Linked DNA regions of Homo sapiens. The protein of the gene in region 2 purifies or fractionates together with the protein of the main gene of each other region. This does not show direct contact. Each region holds a gene or a part of one and is shown on either strand. Other genes may lie near its edges. The genes, in order: DHX15 and CMTR1.

Region 1 (11,871 bases), on a different chromosome or scaffold from region 2:
GAACATGGAAAATAGTAAAAAAATTATGTTTTAAATCATTAAAATGAGAACATACATATTCTAGGTGATCATTTAATGCATTTACAGATGGAATCAACAACTTACTCTACCATTTGAGTGATCTGTTTATACCCAAAAAAAGTAGTTTAATCTTCTTTTGGCTGCATGGACATTAAGGTTGTAAACAAGTCCAGGTGCAGTGGCTTATGCCTGTAATCCCAATACTTTGGGAGGCTGAGGAAGGAGGATTGCATGAGTCCAAGAGTTCCGGGATGTAGTGTGCTAGTTTGGCATCCATATGGTAACTCCTTGGAGAGCGGGGGACTATCAGGTTGCCCCAGGAGGTGTGAACCGGCCCAGGTTGGAAAATGAGCAGGTCAAAGCTGATCAGTGGTGGGATTGTATCTGTGAGTAGCCACTGCCTTCCAGCCTGGGCAACATAGCAAGGCCTTGTCTCTTTAAAATATATACATACATATATATGTATTTCTTATATATAGATTATATATATTTCTTTATATGTATATAAAGATAAACCTGAAAGATCAGTTGTAAATAGAAAAATTATACCTGGACATTTAAATATAAGACCTATAGGTTCATTTATTGTTAACATTAATCAACACCATTTTGTTGAGTATGGGTTCATTTGTTTGGAATTCCATTTAATTCTAAAGCTGGAATTTAAACTCAAACATTTAGAAAATACACAAGTTGTTTTTCTGGAATTTAAGACAGTTCAATCTTTTGGAATGCTTGGTTTCTAGGCTCTTTTAAATCTTTCAGAATTGTCTCACAGATTTGATAGTTCTGTGTGTGTGAAAGATTCATCTTGTTCTAAACTTCTGAAACATATGACTTGGTGTTCATATATATGACTCTTTTCTATGCTTGGGGTTTATCATTTCATGTCAACTGTAATTCTCTTGACCCAACTGATGGAGACAGGATTATGTGTATATTACACTATGTTTTATAAAGTGTATGGCTATCCCAAGGATTTATGAGTTACATGGAGGCTAGTTAAGAGTGTGGTATAGAACCGTTTATTGAATATTTCCCAAGTGCCAGGCAGTTAGTGTACTGAGGACTTTATATATGTACATTGTTTTATTTTAAACAATTTTTACCCTGTTCACATTTTTACAAGGGGACCATTACGGAAGAAATTGTCCAAGATCAGACAATAATAGGAAAACAGGGACTTAAACCCAGTTTTGTCTTGCAGCAAGTATGTATTCTTAACCTCTGTGTTTTATTTCCTTCATCATTGTTCCTCATCGCTCCATGTAATTCTCTGAGTGTATTGTAAAGCTTTCCTAGGTAATATGGAGAACAGTAAATCTAATTACTCAGATTAAACAGTGCCATTCATTTATAATAGATGCCTTTTTCAGGTTGCTTTATTTATGCTTTTTTAACTTTTAGGTTCAAGGGTATATGTGCAGGTTTGCTGTATAGGTAAATTGCATGTTGTAGGAGTTTGGTGTACAGATTTTTTTTTTTTTTTTTTTTTTTTGAGACAGTGTCTCACTCTTCCAGGCTGGAGTGCAGTGACCCAATCTCAGCTCGCTGCAGCCTGTGCCTCCTGGGTTCAAGCGATTCGATTCTCTTGCCTCAGCCTCCCAAGTAGCTGGGGCTACAGGTGCACGCCACCACGCCTGGTGAATTTTTGTATTTTTTGGTAGAGATGGGATTTCCACATGTTGGCCAGGCTGGTCTTGAACTTTGACCTCAAGTGATTGACCTGCTTCGGCCTCCCAAAGTGCTGGGATTACGGGCTGGTGTACAGATTACTTTGTTACTCGGGTAATAAGCATAGTTACCTGACAGGTAGTTTTTCTGATTCTCTTTCTCTTCCCACCCTCCATCCTCTGGTTTGTTGTTCCTTTCTTTGTGTGCATATTTACTCAAAGTTGAGCTCCCAACTGAGAACATGAGGTATTTGGTTTTCTGTTCTTGTGTTAGTTTGCTTAGGATGATGGCCTTTAGCTTCATATATGTTGTCACAAGAACATGATCTCTTTTTTATGGCTGCATAGTATTCCATTGTGTATATGTGCTACTTTTAAAAATGAATTCTACTTTTAATGGACATTTAAGTTGATTCTATGTCTTTGCTATTGTGGATAGTACTGCAGTGAATATACACAGGCCTGTGTCATTATGGTAGAAGGGTTTATATTCTGTATACCCAATAATGGGATTGCTGGGTCAACTGGTAATTCTATTATAAATCTTTGAGAAGTTGCCAAACTGCTTTCCACAATGGCTGAACTAATACAATCCCACCAGCAGTGGATAAGCATTCCCTTTTCTCTACAACCTTGTTATTTTTTGACTTTTTAGTAGCCATGCTGACTGGTATAAGATGGTATCTCATTGTGGTTTTAAGTTGCTTTATTTTTAATGGCTGCATAGCATTTGTGATTGTACCTTAGTTTACTTAACAAATTCTATTGATGGAACCTCATTTGCAGTTTTTGCTATTAGAAACATTTGCTGTCCTCCGTATCCTCTTACAAACTTGTACACACATTTTTTTCACGCATACACATCTGTGAAATAAATTCCCTACAAGTGAAATTGTTCGGGTCATAGAGTATACTTGAATTTTATCAGCTTTTGGCAGATTGCCCTCCATAGAGATTTTTATATACTCTCACCAGTAAGGAATCAGTAAATGAGCATCTGTTTCTTTACCCTTGCCAACTCAGCATTATAAAACTTTTTATCTTTGTCAATCTTGTTAAGTGAAAAATGGGATTACTTTATGGTTTTAATTTGCATTTATTTTCTGTGAAATTGAACATTTTTGTATATTAGCCATTTGTATTTCTTTTTGGAATCTGAGACTGGTGCTTTTTTCATCTTCTCAGGATTTCTACCTAGTTGATAGCTGTTTTTAAGGTGCTATTTTAAAATGCATCTTAGTTTCAGAGAATTTAAATTTGACCAAATATGCGGTATTATAAAATTGATAGAATTAGATGTTTCATCATATGCTTTGCCCATATTTCTATAGTGGATTGGCCTTTTTCTTATAGATTTGTAGGAGCTTATAACAGAATTAGCACCTTGGATATAAGTTGCAATTTTTGCTCAGTTTGTCATACATTTCTTTGCTTTATGACACTTCATGCTACATAGAGACTTGAATTTTGTACACGTATTGAATTAACCACTTTTATGATGTCCAGGTTTTGCATCATACCCTGCCCAGTGTTGGTTTAAATAATTTAATCCATGTATTTTACTATTTTGTTTTTGTTTTAAACATTTAACCAAGCTGGAATTTTACTGGGGAGGGATCATAAGCTTTGAGGTAGGGATTTCTGGTTTTCATTTTATAAAAATGATTTTTTGCCTTTCTTAGGCTTAGTTTGTAATTTTTTGGAATGTTTCATAAAATATATATACATATATATAAATACAAAAATATAAATAAGTAATATATTTGCAGGATGTAATGTTTTACCATGGTTTGTTCAAATCAGAATTAGTGATGTGTTAGGTGTCGTCATCTTGCTGAGATCATAGTTGGCAGTTGGCTTGTAGTTATACTACGCCATCTACATGTGCCTGTTGCAAAAAAATACTTAAGCTAGGTTGATACTGTTCAGTACATGGGGTTTTTGGTATATTTTATTAAGCAGTCACAGTTGAAAAGCTGAACTGTTACTTACTCCAAGGATGTTTTTGCTACTTTAGACATCTTTAGGTAATCTGCTTCTTGTTTAATTTGATTAATTTAGACTAGTGTTTCTTAAACTTTAGCAATCATCAGAATCACTTGAAAACTTGTTAGAGCAGATTGCTATGCCTCACCTTCAAAATTTCTGATTAAGTAGATCTGAGATGAGACTCAAGTTTTGTAGTTCTTACTAGTTCCAAGGTGATGCTAATAAATTTTTAAGAGCATCTCTGCCCTAAAACAGTTGGAAAACACTGTAGATAGTAAGGCACCCAGTAAAGTGTGGAGTTTGGCTATCCTGTGGCACTTTTATTAATTCATCATTGAAACTTCAAACTTAAAATTTTACTATTGTGACTCATTCCTTAGCCTGGATAAATATTTCATTACTACTAAGAAAGTTAGTAAAACTTGACTCTTACATAAAGGAAAATGGACTGTAGTTTTTATCTCCAGTGCCTGATTCTGCCTTTCCTGAGTTCTGTGTCAAGTTAGTTTTTTGTTGTTAAGCAAAGGGTTTCATACATTTAACAGTATAGCAAATCGTCAAGTACTGTTTCTTTTTTTTTTTTTTTTTTTTTAGTGGCTTAAAATTGACAAATTCATTCTCTCACAATTCTGAAGGTCAGAAGTTCAAAAACAGTATGTTGGCAGGTTAGTTCCAACTGGAGGCTCTAAGTGGCAATAGTCTTTCATGATTCTCTCCTAGCTTTTGGTGGTGGCTAACAGTCCTTAGCATTCCTTGGCTTGTAGCTTTGTAACCACAGTCTCTGCCTTCATCTTCACGTGGCTTTCCTTTTGTGTTCAAATCTCCCTCTCTTTACATTTTGTAAGGATACTGGTCATTGGATTTAGGGCCCACTCTTAAATTCAGGGCGATCTTGTCTGAAATTTATAACTTAATTACTTCTGCAAAGACCCTATTTCTGAGTAATGTCACGTTGATAGGTACCAGAGGTTAGGACCTGGGCATATCTTTCGAATAGCTTTTTGCTATGAAATTTGTACGTACAATGGGTTCCTTTATCTGGGACTTTGTGAAGAGTGTGTTAATGTAGGAGAGACTTAGGACTGGGAATCAGTACAGTGATACCTAGTCTTAGTAACTGGTTTTGAGAGTCTGGAAAAGTTGACTACGGTTTTTTTCGTTTTCTTCACTGGAAAAGAAGTAAATTTGACTATATCCTTGAGACCTTTGAAATTTTGAAATTTCATTTTTCTTGAAATTATTCATTGTACAAACAGCAGTATCCCATATTAACTGGTGATGCAAGAAGTAATTAAGTGCAGCACCTCATGGAATGGGATCACTGGGTGATGATCAGTATTGAGGAACCATTGGGAATTGTCTGGATGATAGAAGTTTTGGCCATTTAACTAAGTACTTGCAATATGCATAGTTAATAAAGCACAATAAAATATTTCCATTAATCTAATTTATAATATTTATAGTCTGCCATCTGTAACATTTCTTCCCTTAGAAAAATAAAAAGGAATGTCTGTTGGTTAGCTCTGCTCCATATTGTGATTGATTAAAGCTTGAGGAATGTGAGGAGAAAAAAGATCAAAATAAAGAAGGTGACTTTTAAAACTAGTTTTAAGAAGTTTTCAACTTAAAGTCATATTTTATCATTTCTGTGACTTTTTTCTCAAGTTTTTATTGTCTGAAGTTACAATGTGTCTCACAATCTACTGAGGTCTTGTAGTTGGTGGCAGTTTGGTTATTATTGCCTGTGAATGCTTGAACTCGATCTAGCTGTACATATTTTCACCTCAAATAATGTGAATTGTTGGGTCTGTATATACTGAGAGTATTTGCTAATTTAAATGCCTTCAGAAATATTAAATATTACACTATGATTCCATGTTGAAATGAGCACTGAGTATCAAGAGGCTGGGAAATGGAGCAATAGGGTGTAAATATGCTAGTATTTGAGCAAATGTTGGAAGAGTAACCAATCCTTTTTTTTTTTTTTTGCCTTGCAAATCAACAGACCGCTCTATTGAAGCTAAGAGAGGTAACTCACAAATAGAGGAAGCTGTATGTTATGTTCTGCTACTGAGATCATGTACAAGAGTATTGCCTCTCTCGTGTCTGTGATATATCGGAAGACAGGAAAAATTACCAAACGTCCTCAGATCAAAGAAATTTCAAAGCAGCTAAGGGCTATAGTGTTGCTGATTCTTGCACTATGCTTTACTGTCTTTAAGGCACTGAGTCATAATTTAATTGGCAGTGTTTTTTCTTTCCTGGTCTTACATAAAATAACCTTATAGCTAATGCTGTTTGTCCCTCCCAGGAATGTGGTAGTTTATTTTTAAAAATATGACCAAGGACAAGAAGCATAAAGCATATAAATGAGTTAAGATGGATTTGTTTGCCAATAGTTTATGAAATTTAGAATTAAGTTTAGGTGAAATAAAGAGAATTCACTTCTTTTTGTTGTACACTATCAATTTGCTGAACTTAATGCTCCAGCAGATGGCATGAGCTAAAAATATCCAGTTGGTCCATGAAAGATTAGGTTAGACTAATCATAAAAAGAGCCAAAATGGTGAATTCATAAATGATGGCTTCAGATTTTTTAATACCACTTTTAAATCCGTAAATAAAATAATGGGTTTTTATCTAACTGGATGAGCTGTGACTTAAGCATCTAAAGGCATCCTGTGTTTTGTCCAGGTGCCAAAAGGAAGATAGTTGTTTTTCATAGTGACATCAGTAACCAGTGTGGAATGGACAGGAGATAGCTGACCCCTGCAAAGTTATACAATCTTGACCCTTGATCTCATTGCCTTCATTCTTACGTGGCGCCTGTCTTGTGATAACTGGAGTCCATATTAGCAGCCTTCACTTGAGCCATCCCTAACTAAGCCTGGTTTCCCTTTTTGGTTCATTGATCAATCTGACGTCATTTGTTTTTATCTTCCATTTATGTATCAGCATTTGTTTAGTGTTGATGCTGCCCCTCAGTCCCACTTCTTTTATTATTGAATTCCTTTTGTGCTTTAAGATTATTTCTTTGGGGTGGGAGGACTCACGCTTTCAGCCCTTTTGAACCAAGAGCCTGTTGTTAGCTTATTAAGTAAGGAATTGTTAAGGCTTAACAAAAAATGTTTATTTGCATGTGGTAACATTTTAGTGGTGTGACATGAAGCAACTTAAAATGGTTTATTAGATTTTGCGTGTTGAATATTTGTATGTTTTTAAAAGGTTTAAGAAATTGAAAATGACGAATTTTGCCTTGGCATTCATGTGAAACCATGTGATCATTATGTTCCATAATTGGTCATATCATGTCTTCCCAGTACATTTCAGTATTACATTTTTCAAGAATTGATGAAGCATATCTTGTTTCATTGTATACTCTTAAAAGATTTTCTTGAAACTTAATTTTGCAATTGATCATGAAACAGTAGCACATTTGTTTGGGGCAGAAGTTTATTTTTAATTTACCTTATGTCTTTGCATTTCATTTTTGTCACGAAGTTTGGTTTTAAAATGACCTAACGGAACCTTTAACCAACATGTTCTTTGGAATATAGGTATATGACTGATGGGATGTTACTTCGTGAAGCTATGAATGATCCCCTCCTGGAGCGTTATGGTGTAATAATTCTTGATGAGGCTCATGAGAGGACACTGGCTACAGATATTCTAATGGGTGTTCTGAAGGAAGTTGTAAGACAGAGATCAGATTTAAAGGTGAAGTAATTTCTTCTCTCCATTTAACTATATATGTGTGTATGTGGGCATAAAAATGGGGAATACATACTGATCAATAACCAACTGTAAGAAATCACCTGTAAAAGAAGGAACTAGTAAGTACCTTCTTGTTTTGTTTCTGCTTTGCTGTGCTTTCATTTTAGACTTTATTTCTCCCCCTTTATAGTAATGCATTTTTAAGCCCAATCTTCTCAATTTGTAACCCACCTAGTTCTTTTATAATCTAATAACATATATGTGTAACTGTGCTACTCACTGTACCCTTCATTAAGTACAGAGGCTTATTTTACTTAAGGATCAAATCTTTCTCCCTCAGATCCATGTCCTTGTCTCATCACAAACACCCATTGTAACTTATAATGCTGGAGAGTGGAAATAACTATACACAGGACAGGCAGCTCCTTAGAAATGTAGTCACTTACCCTCGTGTATTACTTCTTTCCTCCATACCACATGTACCTTGGCCCCTGTTACTGTATTGATTAAGGGCCTAAAACTATTTTCTGACATTTTTGTCCCCCAAAGTCTATGATGTTCCCCTTTTTGCTGTGTTGTGTGTGTATACTATTCATTGGAATGTAGACTCATCCCTTGTTGATACAAGTGTTATAGAAGGGTTCATAGCCTGGTGACAGAGTGAGACTCTTAGCAGAAACAAACAAACAAACAAGGGTTCAACACTGGCAAGAAAGATTCTGGGTCTTTAGAAAAAAAACTGAGGCCTGAGCATGTTTTTGTTTATACAAATTAGATCAATGCTTTAAAAAATATATTTAAAGAATAATGTGAGTACTATCATTATTTATTAAATTTATTGTGCTACCAAGGTTTTAGTGAGAACCTGAAAGTAGAAATTAAGAACTCTTATGAAACTTTTTATGGAGGAACCTTTTTATATCTGGTCCACTTATTTTTTTTTTTTGCATTTTCTGTTTTTTCCTATTTGCAAAGTTTTGTTTTAATAATGGTAGCAATAATTATACTGCATATTAATGTTTTCTTTTAGCAATCTGAATTACATATAATTTTATAAAATCTGATTTTAAGGTATTTTATGAAGAAATGCTGTAGTTTGTGCATTTATTTTTTTTCTAAATTTTTAAAAATGTAAATAACTTTTACTATAGTTCAGCCATTATGTATTTGATTTTTCATTTACAGTTTATTTGAAGGTTTTCATGGGCATTTTTATAGCTGATATATGTAGAATAGTAAATATTGCTATACTGTAAGACCATGTAAGAATCCTTGAAGACAGCTTCAAATAATTTACTGTTTTCTTTCAGGTTATAGTTATGAGCGCTACTCTAGATGCAGGAAAATTCCAGATTTACTTTGATAACTGTCCTCTCCTAACTATTCCTGGGCGTACACATCCTGTTGAGATCTTCTATACTCCAGAACCAGAGAGAGATTATCTTGAAGCAGCAATTCGAACAGTTATCCAGATTCATATGTGTGAAGAGGAAGAGGGAGATCTTCTTCTTTTCTTAACTGGTCAAGAGGTATTGTTTTAATTTTCTTCATTATTTAGCTTTTGACATACTGTTTCTAATATGCAGCAACCTTAATCATAAGAACATGTTAATCATATTTTTTATTTCAATGTTCTTCAACCTGATTGTATTAATATGTAAAATATATAACCCCTTTTATCTGCATACTGTAGGAATACTTCTGTATACCACTAGAGTTTGTGTTATAATTATTTTAAGAGTGTTAAATGCTTTTGGAATTTCAAGATTTTGCAATTGTAGTTTAAGAGATCCCTGGGATATAAGTGCTATTATGCTGAAGCATGAATGTGCATCACAGCTGCTTTGAAATCAGGTTATCTTCATCAGTATTTAGCTTGTGAGTGAACTTGGGTGCCTATTCATCATCAAAACACTTCAGTTTGGTTTTGTCTTCCCATATGCTCATGAAATTTGGGAAGGATTACTAAAAGTTCTTAGTTAGAATTTACTTCATTTAAAATTTTATTCTCAGATGTAGCATTTCTTTTTTTTTTCGAGACGGAGTCTTGCGCTGTCGCCCAGGCTGTAGTGCAGTGGTGCAGTCTTGGCTCACCGCAAGCTCCGCCTTCTGGGTTCACGCCATTCTCCTGCCTCAGCCTCCCAAGTAGCTGGGACTACAGGTGCCCGCCACCACACCCGGCTAATTTTTTGTATTTTTAGTAGAGACAGGGTTTCACCGTTTTAGCCAGGATGGTCTCAATCTCCTGACCTCGTGATCCACTCTCCTCGGCCTCCCAAAGTGCTGGGATTACAGGCGTGAGCCATCGCACCCGGCCAGATGTAGCGTTTCTAAGCTTCTTTTCAATAGGGTGTTTATAGGTGTGCTGTGGAATACCTGAGTGGCTAAATAAATTCAGAAGCTATTTGGATAATACAAAGTTTTAAAAAGCCTTTTACGAAAGGGTTTTTCTTTTTCTTTTTGGGGGTGGGGAGGGAAGACAGAGTCGCGCTCTGTCAACCAGGCTGGAGCGCAGTGGCATGATTATCGGCTCACTGCAACCTCTGCCTCCCGGGTTCAAGCGATTCTCTTGCCTCAGCCTCCCAAGTAGCTGGGATCACAGGTGCCCACCATCACACCTGGCTAATTTTTTTTTAATTTTTAGTAGAGACGGGGTTTCACTATGTTGGCCAGGCTAGTCTCGAACTCCTGACCTCAGGTGATCTGCCCTTCTCGGGTTCCCAAAGTGCTGGGATTATAGGCGCGAGCCACCACACCTGGCCCCAAAATGCTTTTTTGATGGCATATAAACAGCATTTGTGCTGTAATGTAGTATTGAGGCTGTTGGGATAATCGTTTTGTCCTCTTGTGTCTGGTCTCTAGTTTCTCATTTCCTCCAAAGTGCATAGTATATTTTTATTTTTATTTATTTTGTTTTATTATTTATTTATTTGAGATGGAGTTTTGCTCTTGTTGCCCAGGCTGGAGTGCAGTGGCGCGATCTCGGCTCACCGCAACCTCTGCCTCCCAGGTTCAGGTGATTCTCCTGCCTCAGCCTTCCGAGTAGCTGGGATTACAGGCATGCGCCACCATGCCCAACTAATTGGTATTTTTGGTAGAGATGGGGTTTCTCCGTGTTGGTCAGGCTGGTCTTGAACTCCCAACTTCAGGTGATCCACCCGCCTCGGCCTCCCAAAGTGCTGGGATTACAGGCGTGAGCCACTGCACCTGGCCATATTTTTATTTTTTAAATCACTATTTAAAATTGTCATCATTCTCAGATAACATAAGCGTATTGAGATTCTATCAGAAATATCAAATGGCCTCATGGTTAAGGACCCGAAAGGTTTTTCTCTGAGACAACTTTGTGCGGTATTTTCTGTGAATCCCACAGCTGGGGAAAGGAAGGGAGTAAGCCGAAGGGTTTTCAGATGTATGCTAGAGTGTCTTTCATGAAATAAAATGCTGCTCTAGTTGTCAGCTGTTTTTTTGCATACCATTGCTTCTTTAAGTTATCTTTAGATTCCCAGTCTTGAATTTGAAGAGTTTTGGGGAGAAGGTAGCAGAAAACCTAACGTTTTGTTTACATTTCATTTGTTGTATTTAGTAGTAGAGCTGGTCTAAAGTAAATATTACCTTCTCATTTTTGTGAACCTTCATTATTTTTACTTGGTAAGTTAAATGCAACTGCGAAATCAGTACTCCTTTCTTCATAAATTTGAATAGCCTCCATGAAATTGAGTAATCTCATAAAAATTTAAAACTGGTTTTTAAGAACATATTCTGACCACTAAATAAAAGTGCTTCTGTAGTCACATGAGTTAATTTGGGAGGGAGAGAGAACAGTTTAAAGTGTTGCCTAGATAGTAATTAGATAAGAGTGATTGTAATTAAATAATTTTATTTTTAATTTTGCTTAGTAAATTTTTTTTTCAACATGCAGTGAGTTAATTGGTAAGGTCCAGATTAATTTACTAACATATTGCTGCTTTTGGAGTTAAAAATCTTTTCTCAAATCAAAAACTCCTGAACTGTCTGTCTTTATTCTCAGTATTGCTAATGACTAAGCAGATGGCTGCTGTTGAAACTTCTTTTCCTCCACTACCTGTTTCTGTTTATATTCTGATGAATGCAGATAAGTTTTGTGGCATTCTCAGCTGATAGTGTTGACTTCTTGGAAGTTTGGCAAACCTCAGGGAAAATTTTTATTGCAAGTTTTAAAGCTGTTTAGGACTTTATCTAAAAACTTAAGTGTTACGGGATTTCTTCCACATTTTAGAGATGCCTTTATATCCTACATAGTCATCATTTTGTTTTAGCTCCTTGCATACTTAGCAGATTGGGTAGTCTAATCTCCAGTAAAGTTGGAATTGTCATTTTAAAATACTGGAATCACAAAGCAAATGTCTAATTTAAGCACTTAATTTTTAATGTGTGAAATCTGGATATTTTGTGATTTCTGAGCATTTATTTTTCATTTATGTACAGTAAAATT
Region 2 (11,874 bases):
AATTTGTAAGAATGTATTTACACTTGAAAATACCTTCAAACTCCTTTGAAAATACTCAAAAGATCACGATGCAACAGTGGCCATGACAACAACATCCCTTTTCTTCTTTACTCTGGCCAGATGTCAGTCTTTGACCTGGCAATGCAGCTACCATGTGAATAATGTAAAATAAACACACTGATTAAACTAAATAGATCTAATAATGAGTCATTACATTGATTTAGCAGAGGAGGAAAAAATAAGGTCCACACAGACAGAAATAGTAACTACTGTTTTGTTTTTCTAATTGTCCTCCCTAAAGAGCATTTTTCAATCATCTACCTGAACATTATGTTCAGGTAGAAGTGGCTGCAGTAAATGGAAACACCTCTGCTTTAATAGAATGATTTGAATAGGAAAGCTGCATATACATTTCAGGGGATATGTAGACAGCAAACCACCAGGGTATACTGTCCGGGGGACACCTAAGAGAATTAGATACAGAACATAGGTGATATAAATGCTAAGTACTTAATGAAATGATCTTCTGCAGACTGGAGGAGACAGGCAAAATGAAAACTGTGACGCATTTTAAGCTTCTTGGAAAAGATACTATTGTTGCCTTTTATCAGTTCTATTCAGTAACTATTTACTGAGCTTTTGCTCCAGGCTAGGCATGGTGGGAAAGAAGGCACAGGGAGCAGTCTTGCTGATAAAGATACTGCCCTCAGTTTCTGTGTCAATGCAGAGCTGCCCCTTCCTAAAATAAATTAACCTAGGGAAATCTAGAAATGTTGGTTTGCCTCTGCCTCCCATCTCATTTTCTGCAAATGAAAGGACGAAGTGGCCTCTTGCCAGACACATACAAGGAACTGGACACCTCTGGATTTCCATTCTTTTTTTTTTCTTTTTGAGATAGGGTCTTGTTCTGATGCCCAGGCTGGAGTGCAGTGGCATAATCTTGGCTCAGTGCAACCTCTACCTCCTAGGCTCAAGTGATCCTCCCACCTCAGTCTCCCGAGTAGCTGGGTCTACAGGTGCATGCCACCATGCCCAGCTAATATCTGTATTTTTTGCAGAGGTGGGTTTTCACCATGTTCCCCAGGCTGGTCTCAAACTCCTGGGCTCAAGCAATCCGCCCACCTTGACCTCCGAAAGTATTAGAATTACAGGCATAAGCCGCCATGCCCAGCCTGGATTTCCATTCTACACACACAACAGCAATAGTCAATCCTGACTGAGTCATATAGTACCACTTCCAGAGAAGGGGGAAGAGTAATCTCAATTCAGTCACAAAAGCTTGAAATTTAAATCAGAACGGTTTCCTTGAAGGATCCTTACCCTTATACACTTACCTTCTTTTACCTGGGACTTGTCCTTTCCTTACTTCAAAGAGATGTTACTTGAGAGCAAATGTCCCCCAAGATCCACTTAGAACCAGATATCACTTGTTCCCCAGACATACTCTCTCTTTTTCCCTTACAAGCCATCTCTCCCAATACCCCTACCCAAGGAGATTCTATCTTCACCAAGCTGCTCAAATTCCAGGTGAGAGGTAAAATTCCCTTTCCTCAAGAATCTCCAGAACCATCGCGTGCAGTAAGTTTTTGCCTTCTTACTCAGGAACTTCAATTCCTACCTACCCTGGAATCTACTGTGACTTTGAAGCAGAGGTGTCCAATCTTTTGGCGTCCTTGGGCCACACTGGAAGAATTGTCTTGGGCCACACATAAAATACACTAACAACAGCTGATGAGCTTTTTTTTTTTTTTTTTGAGACGGACTCTTGCTCCGTGTAGTGCAGTGGCACAATCTCGGCTCACTGCAAGCTCTGCCTCCCGGGTTCACGCCATTCTCCTGCCTCAGCCTCCCGAGTAGCTGGGAGTACAGGCGCCTGCCACCACGCCCGGCTACTTTTTTCTGTTTTTTAGTAGAGATGGGGTTTCACTGTGTTAGCCAGGATGGTCTCGATCTCCTGACCTCGTGATCCGCCCACCTTAGCCTCCCAAAGTGCCGGGATTACAACTGTGAGCCACCGCGCCTGGCCAGCTGATGAGCTTTAAAAAAAAAAAAAAAATCCCCCAAAAATCTCATAATGTTTTAAGAAAGTTTACAAATTTATGTTGGGTCCCATTCAAAGCAATCCTGGGCCACAGGTTGGACAAGCTTGCTTTAAAGGCGTGAACACCTCCACATACAAAGCTGCAACTGACTCTCTTATCTAGCCTGGACTACAGCGACACCGATGCTCCATTCGCTGTACCACCTGTCAAGCTTCTCTCTGGACCAGCTTCTCAGTAGCAGCTGATGAGTAACTGCCCTTCAATAAGCTTATCACTTGTGAATAAACTGTATTTCCTACTACCTTCAAAGGGTGCTTCACACCCTTTCAGTCACCAATCTGTTATGAAATTTCATTCCAGTTTCCCAGTGATCCAACAGAGGATCCAATATGCAAGCCTGCTGGTGTGCTGGGTTGAATATGGTATCCTCCCCAAAGCCTGTAAATGTGACCTAATTTGGAAATAGGGTCTTTCCAGATTACATCAAATGTAATACTAGATTACAGTGGGCCCTATCCAATGACCGATGTCCTTATAAGAAGAGGGAAATTTGGATACAGACACACACAGAGGAAAGGTAGAGGCAGAGATTGGAGTTATGCTACCACAAGCCAAGGAACACCAAGGAATGCTAGCAGCCAGCAGAAGCTAGAAGTGGTAAGGAAGGTCTTCCCAAGAGCCTTTGAGGGAACATGGCCCCACCAACACTTTGATTTTGGACTACTAGCCTCCAGAGCTGTGAGAGAATAAATGTCTGTTGTTTTGGGTCACCCAGTTTGTAGTAATTTGTTACAGTAGCCCTAAGAAACTAATACAGCTGGCAAGTCAAGGTAAATGCAAATTTACCTTGAGGTATTTGAGGCAAGCTCCCAGACATTTTACCATTCCTCAGAAAGCATCTATGGAAACTGTGAATAACCCTAAAAGACAGGCAAAGCAAAATGCTAGTTTCAACCAGATTAGTGAAATCTTCGACGCTTAATGCAAACAGTGAACGCAGCAATGCTCCAGTAGTTGGATACTTCTGACCACAACCGCTGAAGGAATTGAGAAAACGGTATGCATGCAAAAAAAGTGAAAATTAGGCTCGACGGCCGCAGCAAAGAGGCCCTCCCTTACAAAAGAGCCCCAGGATAATTAACAGCTATTAAGGGCACACAGCACTCAATGCTCACCACTACTTCTAACTGGTTTAAGGCAGCAAGAGTGCCACCTACTGAAGGACAACCAACAGAAAGCAACTTCTGGAAAAATTACCATTTTTTATTTAAAACAAGTTTCCCCACTCTTAGTAGGAGAATGGCAGAAGGGAAAAGAGTCTATAGCCAACATCTCTCTGTAGAGTATTCCTAATTTTCCTCAAGGGACCAAGGGGCAGTGGACTATAGTCTGCTCCACCTAGATTAGACACTGTGTGTTCAAATAACCAGATGGCCAGTGGCCTCAGACCACACAAGCACACGTACCTTTTGCTCCATGACTGACAGAGGAGGGAGGTTCATCATCGGACGTGGAGCTGAGGCTCAGGGCAAGCTCTGCAACTCTTTTTTTCTGTTTCTTGATGGGGGCAGTGCATTCTGGGTCAGTTCTCCTCTTCATCGTTAACTGTAACCATAAATCCAGTCAGTCAGCTGCCCTTGGGTCACAGCCACTGGGATCACAGCAGGGATTCCAAAGTGTAAATCATCAATGGGATGAGATTTGGCAATTCTACACATCTTCCAGTGCCAGCACTTGAATAGCCTCTTCCTCAGAATGAGGTCTAGGAAGGATGCTAGACAAGTGTTGGTTTTCAATAATAGCTGTTTTACTGGAAAATGTGGTGCTCACAGACTGAGAGAGCCCTGGGCCACTGGTGTCAGATAACAGAAAGTCATGGATCAACTCCACAAGCCACTGGGGGATAAAGCCTTGGTACCTGTAGTTATTCTACACTTTTGATGCAATATTGGCCATGCATGACAATGTACACTGAAAATGAACTATAAAACCGAATAAATATTAACCAATATTCCCAAGGTGAAGGGACCATCCCAGAATGACTGTTTCATCAGCATTATTTTACCAAAACAATTAAGAAATTACATAATATCATAAAAATACTGGTTTTGGTTTACTTCATAATGTTTGAAAACATGAAAGAATTGGGAAAGTTTTTAAGCAGAGTAGGGAATGGAAGCAGTGAAATGACTTAAGACCGAGGAAACACAAGAGCGGGAAAGTTATTGGGACTGGAGGTAGCTATACCACAGAACTCAGTTACGAAAACAACAATTTTAAGGACAGAAATCCACCTCCACAAAAAAGAGTGGAAACCAGCTGGGCGCGGTGGCTCACGCCTGTAATCCCAGCACTTTGGGAGAAAGAGGTGGGCGGATCACCTGAGGTCAGGAGTTCAAGACCAGCCTGGCCAACATGGTGAAACCCCATCTCTAGTAAAAAAAACACAAAAATTAGCCGGGTGGTGGCACATGCCTGTAGTCCCAGCTACTCAGGAGAACCGCTTGAATTGCTGAGGCGGAGGTTGCAGTGAGCCGAGATCACACCACTGCACTCCACCCTGGGCGACAGAGCAAGACTCCGTCTCAAAAAAACAAAAAAGAAAGAAACAGGCACCATGCCACCATCAATCATCCATCCCCATGGTTAGGTACATGAGAGATAAGCACGAGAAAAAAATAAGATGGAATGAAGTGATTATGAAACCCTGAAATCTTAACGAATTATCAAGTTAAAGAGCAAGCAAGAGAAGTAGTGAATACAGTGTGGCTTACACACAACTGATTGGCTGTAGAGAACTCAGAAAAGAGGACTCAATACAGGGTGGGCGACAAGCTGGGAAACAATCCTTAGGGAAGGCGAGGTACAGCAAGAAAGTATTGAAACCCAAAAGTGTCACTGATGCTCCCAACCTCGTAAAACCCTGGATCACATGTTTCAGTTCTCTCCAACTCAAGGAAGAGCCAATCAACCCAATGCACAACCGCCACCTTCCTGAGAAAGCAGCCTCTTACTAGATACAGGCAGGGGCTGTCCCAGGGAAGAACCGGAGACACTGAGCAAACAGAAAGCAAGACCAAGCTAAGCCACATTTCACTTTAAGCCGTAGTCTTAAATACCCCCAAAAGGCCCCCAGGGTGAGATAAAGGAAGGCTCATCACAGAGCTTGCTTCTAGCCATTGCAAGCGCTAAAAGCTTTTAATTCTTAAGTGACTCGGGGGGAGACTGGAAGTACAGCAAACTCAAAGCGGACTGTTGAACAGCTGTGTGAAAGGCAGGAGAGGCGGATGCTCCTCCCCAAACCACATCACCTTAGATTTGGGCCTTCCAAATCATCTCATCCAACCCTATCATCTTCCACGGGAAAAGACTGCGGCCACAGAGGTGAAGGCCACACAGCTAACCAGTGCCCTGCTCAAGTGACCCACACATGCCAGCAGAATGCTCTGGCAGGGAACTTCTAAGCGGAAGGCAAGCGGCCTGGTTCTACCTGCTGCTTCCGCACAGAAGGGGTTCAAATCCCCTCTGCAGTCTTCTCTCCCTGGGCCTCGGTTTGGCACTGCCACCCCTAATCACAGAGAGAAGAGATAAGCTCCCATGTCTCCCGGCCAGTCCCTTCATTTGAAGATAACATGAGCGTGTGAATGTGTGCGCAGAGACGTGTGTCAGCGGCAGCTCGGGCTCCAGGGAGCCGGCGTTGGGGGTGGGAGGAGGAGGGAAGACATAAGGGGCCAGAAGGCGAGGAGACCCATAACCGCGGGCGGGGGGCCCAGGCGGCGGTGGAGGGGAGAAGGATGCTGAGCCCGCGCGCCCGCCCGCTTGCTCCCCCCGGGCCGCGCGTCGGCACTCACGCTGAGGGGAGAGAGCGAGCTGCCGGGGAGCGGAGGGGGGGTCAGGCCGACACTGTCGCCGCCGCTGCCAGAGCCGCCGCCTCCTCCCTCAGTTTCGTTTCCCCACAAGCCAGCCCGGGTCCGCCAGCCGCACCGTCGCGCTCGGGTCCAGTACTGCGGGCAGCGCAGCCTGATGACGTCACGGACAGCGCCGCGCCTCGGTCCTCCCCCGGCCGGGTCCCGGCCCCGGGAAAGGCAGCTGAGGTTTGGCCCGCTCCACCTCTCAACCTGGGAGGTCCAGGGGCGCCTGCGCGGAAAAGCCGCCCGGAAAAGGCTGCAAAAGCAAAAGTAACTATCTCCTCCTTTGGCTCTGAGGAAGAGAAACCAATACAAAAATTGTAAGTGCTAGGTGCCCTCACACGACCTCATCTTACTTAATCTTATCATTATCTTCATTTTACAGACTAAGAACAAGTTCAGAGAGGTAGATGGTAAACTGGTTGAGCGAACGCAGTGTTCTTGTTCCCTGCTGTATCCCCAACATCCAGCCTATGGGACATCTCAACAGATTTTGAACGAAGGACGGGAGGACAGAAGGAATGCCGCCTGTAGCATCTTACCATATGGGCACAGTTGGCTCTCCATCTCAAACCTCTCTTCTGATTTTCAGGCCAATATGGCCAAACGTCTGTTGGACATCCTCACTCAGTCACCTCAAACCCCATGAATTCAAATTTCACCTTATGTTCTTCCATCAGCTCACTTTTTTCCTGGTGAAGGGCGCTGCCATCCATCCTGTTGGTCCAGCTAGAAATCTGAGGAATCTCCCTCTTCTTCATACCCCAAAGTTTCTCATACACTTAATTGCGCTTACCTCCTAATTGTCTTTCAAATCCATCCATTCACCCCCATCCCCATTGCCACAATTCATGCACTTACCCCCTCTCGGCAGAATTTCTCCAGTAACTCCAAACTCCCGTGACTGTCTCCAGTTGTGATCCCTCTAATGCGTTCTTCACAAAACCAAAGTGATTTTTATAATTTTCAACACCTGTGAAAAGAAGGGAATTTAAAATTGATTAATTAAACCTGATCCTGTCACAACCCAACAATGATTAAAATCCATCAATGATGTCCCATTGCTCTTAGAATAAAGCTAATGTCCTTAAAATGGCCTCTGAGACCCTCCAGCATGACCCCTTCTTCAGGTATGCCTTGTACTGCTATCCCTTAGTTCTCCCCATGCTGACTCTTCTCAGTTTATCAAATATGCCGTGTCTCCGCCGGGCGCGGTGGCTCACACCTGTAATCCCAGCACGTGGGGAGGCTGAGGCGGATGGATCACCTGAGGTCAGGAGTTCGAGACCAGCCTGGCCAACATGGTGAAATCCCGTCTCTACTGAAGATACAAAAAAAGTAGCTGGGTGTGGTGGTGCGCACCTATAGTCCCAGCTACTCAGTAGGGTAAGTCAGGAAAATCGCTTGAACCTGGGAAGCAGAGGTTGCAGTGAGCAGAGATTGCACCACTGCACTCCAGCCTGGGCGACAGAGCCAGACTCCATCTCAAAAACAGAACACAACAAAACAAAACATGCCATGTCTCTTAAGAGTTCAGCCCCCTGCCTGGATCATGCTTCTCCTCTTTGCTGGGCTAATGTCCATTTATCCCTCAGGAGTCACTTTAGTGTCCCTATCTCGAAATATTTCCTGATGTCACAAATCTAGGTTGGGAGACCCACCTCTGAGCTCCTAAAGCACTCTGTCCTTCCACTATCAAAGCACTTACCACGGTGTTGTATAATGGCCTGTGGACTCATCTGCCTCCCCGACTCAGCTGTAAACTCTGTACAGGAAAGATTGTCTGTCTGTATTAAATTCACAAGATTTAACAGAGGCTGGTGGTCAGTGCTCAATAGATATTTACTGAATCTGTGGAAGTGTGGAATATGAATGAAGGTTGAGTGATATGTTCAAGATTACAGAGCTAGGAAGCAGCAAACAGGTATTTACCTAGTTCTCTATGTTCTAAAGTTTAGTGTCCTTCTTTCCACCTCACTGAGGCTTCTTAGCATGCATTATGACATGAACACTTTTGGTAATCTTGTAGAGCTTATGGACCCATTCTCAAAATAATAATTTGAAGGGTATAAAATAAGGTATAGGAAATGAGTTATATTGAAAAAGTTAACATATTTAGCAAATTTAATGATTTAATTTTTATGTAAAGCATTAAATAATGAGAGAATGCATTCAAAATATAGTCAAGTTAAAGTTAAATTTTATTTTTTAATGTATATGAGTATACCCAATGAATAGTGCTGGAAAAAACAGATAAATATATAGGGAAACACGAACTTTGAATCTTTTTTTTTTTTTTTTTTTTTTTGAGACGGAGTCTTGCTCTGTCACCCAGGCTGGAGTGCAGTGGCACAATCTCCGCTCACTGCAAGCACCACCTCCAGGTTCACGCCATTCTCCTGCCTCAGCCTGCCGAGTAGCTGGGACTACAGGCGCCCGCCACCACGCCCGGCTAATTTTTTGTATTTTTAATAGAGATGGGGTTTCACCGTGTTAGCCAGGATGGTCTTGATCTCCTGACCTCGTGATCCGCCCACCTCAGCCTCCCAAAGGACTGGGATTACAGGCGTGAGCCAACGTGCTCGGCCCACTTTGATTCTTACTTTATGCCAAATGCAAATTAAGATACATCATAGACCTAAGCATAAAATCTAAAATGATAAAGCTTTTAACAGAAAACACAGGAAAATATTTTTGCAGACTTAGGGTAGACAAAGATTTTTTTTTACATGGGACCCAGGGAGCATTAATCGAAAGAAAAATAATGATAAAATGGAGTTCATCAAAATAAAAGGCTTCTACTCAACAAAAGACACCATTAAGACATTGAATAATCAAACCACAGAATGAGAGGAAAAGATTCACAATACATATATCTGACAAATGACTTATCTCTTATATATATATATACACACACACACATATATATATAAAATACCCAAGAATAAAAAGAAAAACAGAAATTTCCAATTCCTGTCAAAATGGAAACAGCACATTTCATTCTGTTTCTCCCACTGAATGTAATTTAAAACCTTAGACAGAATGCATGGAACAACTATCTGAGGATTCTGAAAAGTAAATGGTAAAGTATAAAGTAAATGGCAGGAATATGGAGAAAGGAAACCAGAAGTCAAAGAACTGTCAAATCAAGAGTGAGTTTCCCAATTTTTTTCCCCTTCGTTTTCTCCCAACTTGTACTAAAAGGCAACCGAAAATGCACATATTTTGCACAACAATGCGAATATAGTTAACACTGCTGAACTGTACACTGTTAAATTACATTTGGCTTAAATCTGCCTCCATACATAACATAATCTAATAATATGTAAACAAACTGTAACCTAACTTGAGAGTATATTCTTTTTTTTTTTTTATTATTTTTTGAGACAGAGTCTTGATCTGTCATCCAGGCTGGAGTGCAGTGGCACAATCTCAGCTCACTGCAACCTCCACCTCCCGGGTTCAAGCAATTCTCCTGCCTCAGCCTCCCAAGTAGCTGGGACTATAGGCACATGCCACCACGCCTGGCTAATTTATGTATTTTTAGTAGAGACTGGGTTTTACCATATTGGCCAGGCTGGTCTTGAACTCCTGACTTCGTGATCCACCTGCCTTGGCCTCCCGAGAGTATATTCTTGTAACAAGTATCTGAGTCTGGGCTAATCATAGCAGGTAAACTTTCAGTCAGTCATGGGGATGCAAACTGCCAAAACATGTCCAAATAAGGCAAATGCCAAACTGTAACCAATCAGATTATTTTTGTATGTCACTTCCTTTTTCTATCTATAAATACTGCATGCCTCCATTGGTAGGTAAAGCTCTCTGAAACTTTACTGGTTTGGGAGGCTTCCCAATTCATGAATTGATTCTTTTCTCAAATAATCTCTGCTAAACTTTATTTATGTAAAGTTTTTCTTTCAACAACACTTAAAAATGGTTAAGATGGTAAATTTTATGTTGTGTTTTTTACCATAATTTAAAGAATAGCCATTATAACCATAACCTAAAACACAGGAGTAAGACTCTTAAAAAATGAATAGAAAGATAGTGAGTCTCTGCAGAAAGAACCGAATGGAAATTTTAGAATTAAAAAGTACAGTAACAAAAACAAAAATTTCACTAGATAGGTTCAATAGCAGAATGATGATGATGGGGGTGGAGGAAGCCACTAAACTTGAAGATAGATCAATGAAAAGTATCAAACGTGAAAAACAAATGGGAAAAAAAAGTGAATACAGCCTCAGGGACCCAGGGAACAATACCAGACGATCCAATACTTATGTCATCAGAGTCCCTACAAAGAAAAGGAGGTAGAAAAAAATATTTGGCGCTAAAAAATATTTGAAGAAATAATGGTTAAACACTTCCAAACAATGGCAAAAGGCATGAATTTACAGACTCAAAAAGCTCAGAATTTCCCAAACAGTAAATGCCCAAAGAAATCCACTTCCAAATGCATCATAACCAAACTGCTGGAAACTAAAGCCAAATAAACTATGTTAAAAACAGCCAGAGAAAGTTGTCAAAATCAAAATGGAGTCACTCATGTTTAAAACTCTGACAGGCCAGGCACAGTGGCTCATGCCTGTAATCCCAGCACTTTGGGAGGCCAAGGCAGGTGGATTACCTGAGGTTGGGAGCTCAAGACATGCCTGGCCAACATGGTGAAACGCCGTCTCTACTAAAAATACAAAAATTAGCCAGGCGCAGTGGCACACATCTGTAATCCCAGCTACTCAGGAGGCTGAGGCAGGAGAATCGCTTGAATCCGGGAGGTGGAGGTTGGAGTAAGCAGAGATCACACCACTGCACTCCAGTCTGGGTGACAGAGTGAGACTCCATCTCAAAAAAACAAAACAAAACAAAAAAACAAAACTCTGACAAACAGAGCCAGGGAACCCACGAAGGGAGGGTTCTCATGCATAAATGCCTGATAACAACAACTATCACAAAAGGCTCTGCAAAAATCACAATCTTCCACAAAAGTCGTCACAACCTAACAACAACAACACAACATACTTCTGCAAGGACCATCTGCCTAACTGCCTGTCCAAACTTGCAATGACACCACCCTTGTTATTAAGGATCCTTGTAGTGAAGGATAATTGTCTCAAAACATTTATGTAATCCTCCTCATTTTTCCTAAAAAATTTTTGGTCTTCCTTTACCTGTCTGAATACACACATTATTTACTGTGGCAGCTGTACTCCCATTGCAATGCTTATTCCTGAATAAACACAGCGTCTTTTTTAGAGAGTTTCTCTCTCTCTCTCTCTCTCTCTCTCTCTCTCTCTCTCTCTCTCTCTCTCTCTGTCTCTGTTGCTTAGGTTGACAAAACTATGTATCACATTTAGGGGAAAAACAATTAGAATGACTATGGATCTTACATCAGAAACCATGGAGGCCAAAAAAGTAGTGACACGAAACATTTCAAGTCCAGAAAGAAAAGAACAGTCAACGTGGAATTCTATATCCAGTAGAAATATCCTTCAAGAATGAAAGCAAACTAAAGAGATTCTCAGATGAAGAAAAACTAAGAGAATTCATCACCAGCCACACTTTGTAAAATAAAGCCTAAAGGAAGTTATTCAGCCTGAAAAGAAATGATAGCAGAGTAAAACTGGAAATGTCAGGAATGAAGGAAAAGCAATAAAAGTGGTAAATAGCTAGGTAGATATATAATAGGCTATTTTTCTCCTTTTAAGCTCTTACAAATATACCTGATGATTAAAAGCAAAACATATAACATTGTCTGATAAAGTTGCCAGTGTGTGTAAATGTAACACATATGATAACTACTACATAAATGGGGAAGGGTGAAGGGATCTATAAGGCAGGAAGCTTTCTACAGTCCACTGAAAGTGGTAAAATATTAATTCTAAATACACTGTGAAAGTTATGCTGGAATTGTCCTTTTTGGAAAG

What was found.
Region 1: the proteins of CMTR1 (region 2) and DHX15 purify together in Homo sapiens (co-immunoprecipitation; 3 studies listed by BioGRID and IntAct, with this or other methods). This does not show direct contact.

What each region holds. Positions count from the first base shown.
Region 1 is NC_000004.12:24,551,780-24,563,650, reverse strand, and holds part of DHX15 (ATP-dependent RNA helicase DHX15), read left to right. Parts: intron 1-7,240; coding exon 7,241-7,400; intron 7,401-8,707; coding exon 8,708-8,926; intron 8,927-11,871.
Region 2 is NC_000006.12:37,427,397-37,439,270, reverse strand, and holds the start of CMTR1 (cap-specific mRNA (nucleoside-2'-O-)-methyltransferase 1), read right to left. Parts: upstream 6,051-11,874; 5' UTR 5,894-6,050; intron 3,648-5,893; 5' UTR 3,642-3,647; coding exon 3,509-3,641; intron 1-3,508. UniProt on the Homo sapiens protein: S-adenosyl-L-methionine-dependent methyltransferase that mediates mRNA cap1 2'-O-ribose methylation to the 5'-cap structure of mRNAs.